2 separate regions of the Homo sapiens genome follow, and region 1 is linked to region 2. The links come from fine-mapping of genetic effects on gene expression. Tissue or cell type: whole blood. Region 2 holds a variant in brackets; the other region holds the start of a gene. All regions are shown on one strand. Distances are between the middles of the regions.

Evidence for each region. PIP is the estimated chance that this variant, and not a neighbour inherited with it, causes the effect.
Region 1: PSMB5 starts here. The variant in region 2 is the best candidate, but not a certain one, in a credible set for the expression of PSMB5 in whole blood (TOPMed, PIP 0.56).

What each region holds. Positions count from the first base shown.
Region 1 is chr14:23,033,481-23,036,497 of GRCh38, forward strand. PSMB5 (proteasome 20S subunit beta 5) reads right to left here and starts at 1,420. Exons shown (of 3, transcript NM_002797.5): 1 at 1,204-1,420; 2 at 1-194. The coding sequence starts at 1,401. RefSeq lists enhancers at 1,146-2,345, 1,146-1,815, 1,600-1,894.
Region 2 is chr14:22,947,474-22,949,973 of GRCh38, forward strand. HAUS4 (HAUS augmin like complex subunit 4) reads right to left here. Exons shown (of 10, transcript NM_001166269.2): 7 at 395-540; 8 at 128-258. The region is part of intron 2 of PRMT5-DT (PRMT5 divergent transcript); the gene reads left to right. Among named protein-coding and RNA genes, the nearest start is that of MIR4707, 8.3 kb to the right of the region's middle. The variant A/G (reference allele first, on the strand shown) is at 1,498.

The DNA of each region.
Region 1 (3,017 bases), 86 kb after region 2:
TCCTTATTTCGAAGCTCATAGATTCGACATTGCCGAGCCAACAGCCGTTCCCAGAAGCTGCAATCCGCTGCGCCCCCAGCCATGGTGCCTAGCAGGTATGGGTTGATCTCTATCACCTTCTTCACCGTCTGGGAGGCAATGTAAGCACCCGCTGTAGCCCTGGAGTCAGCTGCAACTATGACTCCATGGCGGAACTGTTAAGATCAGAGGAAAACACAAAACAGGCCACATAAGACCACAAAAACACTCCTACATACTTCTTTTTGCATCAATCCAAACCCAGCACATCTCTTTCTCCGTCCTTTTATACTTCACAGTATACTTCTATACTTCACCATATATTAATGTCACCCGAGCTTCACATCAATCCCTTGACATGGATATAACCCATATTAAATTCATTTTATAGGATGGGCGTGGTGGCTCACTCCTGTAACCCAGGCATTTTGGGAGACCAAGGCGGGAGGACCGCTTGAGGCCAGGTGCTGGAGACCAGCCTGGGCAACACAGGGAGATCCATCTCTACAAAAAGTAAAAAAACTTAGCCTGTCGTGGTGGTGTGTGCCTATAGTGTCAGCTACTCTGGAGGCTGAGGCGCTGGAGCCACTGCACTCCAGCCTGAGCGACAGCGAAAAGCCCTGTTTCAAAAAAAAAAAAAAAACAAATCATTTTATAGATGAGGAAACAGGTTCAATGAAATCAAATGATTTCTCAATCTAGAGCTAGTTATTGCAGAGCTGGGCAAGGAACCCCAAATGTCTGATTCTTAGTACAATGCTTACCCTCACCACGCTTCCCCTTCATGCCAGTTTCAGTTACCCCTGCCTTGAGGGGCCGCCCAGTTTCCAAAACTTTGGTAAACGTTTACAATAGCCTTCCCTCGGCCAAGATTCATTGTTGTTGCGGCCTTTCCCAGCTAGAAGATCCTGAACAGCAGCAACCTGGGGTCGCCTAGGAATCAACCCAAGAGGCCTCACCTTCCTCCCCCGACTTACCCCCGGCCCCACCGCCACCCTTTCCAACCAGAGCAAAGACAGGGGCCTCCTGGGCCAATGAGACAGCAAAACTGCTGCGGTCCGAACGAGAGGACCCAGCCTCCGCCTGGGTTGGTGGCCAAGGCCACCGCAAACTCCGGTCAGGCTGGGAGGCCAGGCAAGTCGCGGGCGTTCAGTACTCAGCCTGGCAAGGGGGCTGGCTCCACACCTTGAAGGCCAGGGTGGTTGTTCCATGAAGCATTTCGATTCCTGGCTCTTCTGGGACACCCCAGCCTGGCGCGGCCAGGCTCAGACCATCACTGAGACTCCCTGGACCTAGATCCAGCAGATCTGCACGACCCCCAAGTCCGAAAAACCCGCGCTGGTTCACCGGTAGCGGTCTCTCCAACACGCTGGCAAGCGCCATGTCTAGTGTGGGCAGAAAGAACTAATTCTGAGAACGCCTAGCAAAGATAGGCCGGGCAACGCCTCGCCGTCACAGCTTCACTTCCTATTAAATCTATTCCGGAATGGAGCCATTTTGACTGCTGGCAAGCACGCCTCCAAAAAGAAGAGCCAGATGCGAAAGACCATTTTCACTGAAGGGGGTCGGGGAAATAGATGGCTTCACTAACCTTAAATTCTAAAAGGACGTACCTGCCATCTTGGCTTTGGTCATGCAAGTAGTCCTGGATCAGAATAACCTCAAAATCACAGGAAGTGACTGAAAACGTCCATGTTGCGTAAGGGAAGTGAGGTCGGCCATCTTTGAGAAGGGCGTGACTGGTTGAAAATCGGTTCTGAACCCTTAGCGGTGAGTCCTCCCACTCCAGCCTGGTGTCCAAGCAACAGGTTACATCGCTGCTGCTTCAGCACCTTGTTAACGCGCCTGAGGTTGCCATCTTGTTTAAGGGCACCTTCTAAAATTGGGTAAAATAATGATCCATTCTGAGGCCATTTCCCTATATTAGTTAAACCACAGCAATTAGTGGTAAAACAACGCAACAAAATAAAAGTGCTATACCTCTTGTTGTCAGTCGCCATACAGCAACCCTTCTTTAACAGTAACCGGTTATTAATATCCAATATTCGTTCTCTTGACTCCTACCTTCTGGTGGAAATTCGAATAAGTAATGAATTGCCTAAAAGGCAGATGGAAGAAGAAAAAGCAAAGGGTCCAGTTAATCCACAAACTAGATTCTCAGTTCAGACCTGAATAAGTGTCAGTAGTAATTTACCATCTCAGAGACGGGAGGACGGTTGAGACTGCATAAATATGTACCAAGAGATTCTCTAACTTCAACTTGCTAAGATGATGCCTTTTATTCAGGAACATACTATATTTCATTGCCTCTTCCTCCCTCCACCCACCTTCATTTTTCAAATCTTTTGGGAACTATAACAAACCGGGAAGTGTGCATATGTATGAAATGTTGCCTCCTGCTTTATGGTTCTATGAAGTCAGTCTCTGGCCTTCCTTGTTGGATTCTAGCAGCAACATCTATCAACACCGAAATTCCACTTTCCTCTGATGCCCAGTTCGGCCCCATCTTTCCCCCAGCAGACTCTGCATATGCTGTATTGTTTTTGTTTGTTTGTTTGTTTGTTTTTTGAGACCAAGTCTTGCTGTGTCCCCCAGGCTGGAACACAGTGGCACGATCTCTGCTCACTGCAACCTCTGCTTCCCAGGTTCAAGCGATTCTCCTGCCTCAGCCTCCCGAGTAGCTGGGATTACAGGCGCCTGCCTCCACAACAGGCTAATTTGTGTGTGTGTGTGTGTGTGTGTGTGTGTGTGTGTGTGTGTGTGTGTTTAGTAGAGACGGGGTTTCACCGTGTTAGCCAGGATGGTCTTGATCTCCTGACCTCGTGATCCACCCACCTCGGCCTCCCAAAGTGCTGGGATTACAGGCATGAGCCACCGTGCCCGGCCTCACGCCTGGCTAATTTTTGTATTTTTAGTAGAGATGGGGTTTCACCATATTGGCCACGCTGGTCTCAAACTCTTGACCTCAGGTGATCCGCTTGTTAGCCAGGATGGTCTTG
Region 2 (2,500 bases):
GCTATGTGACATTTACTGGATACCCACAAGGCGCTAGGATAAGGGAGAGGAAAGAGATTAGGGTAAGGGATAGAGGGCTGATAACGTGAGACAGAATCCCTTAAGATCCACAGGGGTCACAGCTCACCTCAGCTTAAGGATCATAGCACCGCACTTGACTTCCAGGTACTGGGCATTGATGCGGTCTAGCTCGGATTGAGTCTTCAGCCGGTGTTCTTGAAGAAGCCTCTGCAGCAAAGTGAGGCAGCGGAGAAGCACCTGAGCCCAAGATGGAGGAAGAAGAGGGCATAAATAAAGATAGTAGAAAGGAGGGTAGATCAGGAATCTTTGTCTTCCCCAAAAGTGCTCCTGGGGTCAGGATAAAGGAAAGGGGCTGTCCCATGCCCTGATAAACCTGGGAGTAAGCAGCACTCTTCTTCTCCAGCAGCAACATCTGCTCCTTCTGCTGGCTCTTGGCATCCTGGCACTGCTGCTGCTCACCCACCAGGACCTCTGCGAGTTTCCACACCTTTGCTGCCTTCACGGTTTCACTGTCAGCATCTGAGCAAAGGGGCAGAGGACTGACAGGAAAACCCTAATCGCTACAATCCCTGTAAAGCAACCTTCCAGTGCCCCTATCCTGTATCTAGACCCACAAATCCTGCCTTATGACAGGTTTTCTTCTAATAATCTATTAAAAATGGCCCCATTCTGGGCTGAGCATGGTGGCTTACGCCTGCAATCCTAGCACTTTGGGAGGCCAAGGCAGGAGGATTGCTTGAGCCCAAGAGTTCAAGACCGGCTTGGGCAACATAGTGAGACTCTGTCTCTATAAAAAAAATTCTAAAATATTAGTTAGGCATACTATGCGCCTGTAGTGCCAGCTACTTGAGAGGCTGAGGTGAGAGGATCACTTGAGCCCAGAAGGTCGAGGCTGCAGTGAGGTGTGATTGTACCACTGCACTCCAGTCTGGGTGACAGAGTTTTTAAAAAAAAAAAAGCGGGGGGGGGGAGGGCATCTGGTTCTCATAATTATTAAATAAATTATCTTCACTCTTACCTTTGATTCCGGATTTGGACCTTAATTCTTTTTATTTTTTTGAGACGGAGTCTCTCACTGTCACCTCGGCCGGAGTGCAGTGGCGCGATCTCAGCTCACTGCAACCTCCACCTCCCAGGTTCAACCAATTCTCCTGCCTCAGCCTCCCAAGTAGCTGGGATTACAGGCACCCGCCACTACACCCAGCTAATTTTTTGTATTTTTAGTAGAGACGGGGTTTCACTATATTGGCCAGGTTGGTCTCGAACGCCTGACCTCATGATCCACCTGCCTCGGCCTCCCAAAGTGATGGTATTACAGGCGTAAGCCACCGCGCCCGGCCCGGACCTTAATTCTTAAGTCATAGAAATGGTTTAAGGAGACCAAGTGTGGTAGCTCATGCCTGTAATCCCAGCACTTTGGGAGGCCAAGGCGGGCAGATCACCTGAGGTCAGGAGTTTGAGACCATCCTGGCCAAC[A/G]TGGTGAAAACCTGTCTCTACTAAAAATACAAAAAAATTAGCTGGGCAGGGTGGCAGGCGCCTGTAATCCCAGCTACTTGGGAGGCTGAGGCAGGAGAATTGCTTGAACCTCGGAGGCGAAGGTTGCAGTGAGCTGAGATCACGCCATTGCACTCCAGCCTGGGCGACAAGAATGAAACTCCGTCTCAAAAAAAAAAAAAAAAGAAATGGTTTAGGGAGGAAAGTTCAGACTCAGGTGTTAAGCTTTATTATTTTCGTAAAAATGATACACATTCAGGGCCAGGCACAGTGGCTCACGCCTGTAATCCCAGCACTTTGGGAGGCCAAGGTGGGTAGATCATGAGGTCAGGAGACTGAGACCATCCTGGCTAACACGGTGAAACCCCGTCTCTACTAAAAATACAAAAAATTAGCCAGGCGTGGTGGCGGGCACCTGTAGTCCCAGCTACTCGGGAGGCTGAGGCAGGAGAATGGCGTGAACCTAGGAGGTGGAGTTTGCAGTGAGGTGAGACTGCGCCACTGCACTCCAGCCTGGGGGACAGAGCGAGACTTCGTCTCAAAAAAAAAAAAAAAAAAAAAAGAGATACACATTCATTCAGGGTGGTCAGACTCAAATAAGAAAATCATTACACAGAAGCAAGTAAAAGCTGAAATATGAATACTACGTCTAGAAACACATTATTATAAACAGCTTGACATAAATGGTATTATACCCTCCAAGCTTATACAGAGAGTATAAGGTGTTCTATGAGTCTGAACTTTCCTCCCTAAACCATTCTGAACCTCCTGAGAGAACTCATCCTTCCCTGCAGCAGGAGGACACTCCCACTCAGTATCTTGCTGAATAAAAAGAGTCCTTACAAAGGTCCTTGTTTTGGCCGGGTGTGGTGGCTCACACCTGTAATCCCAGCACTTTGGGATGCCGAGGCAGGCGGATCACCTGAGGTTGGGAGTTCCAGACCAGCCTAATCAACATGGAGAAACCCCATCTCTACTAAAAATA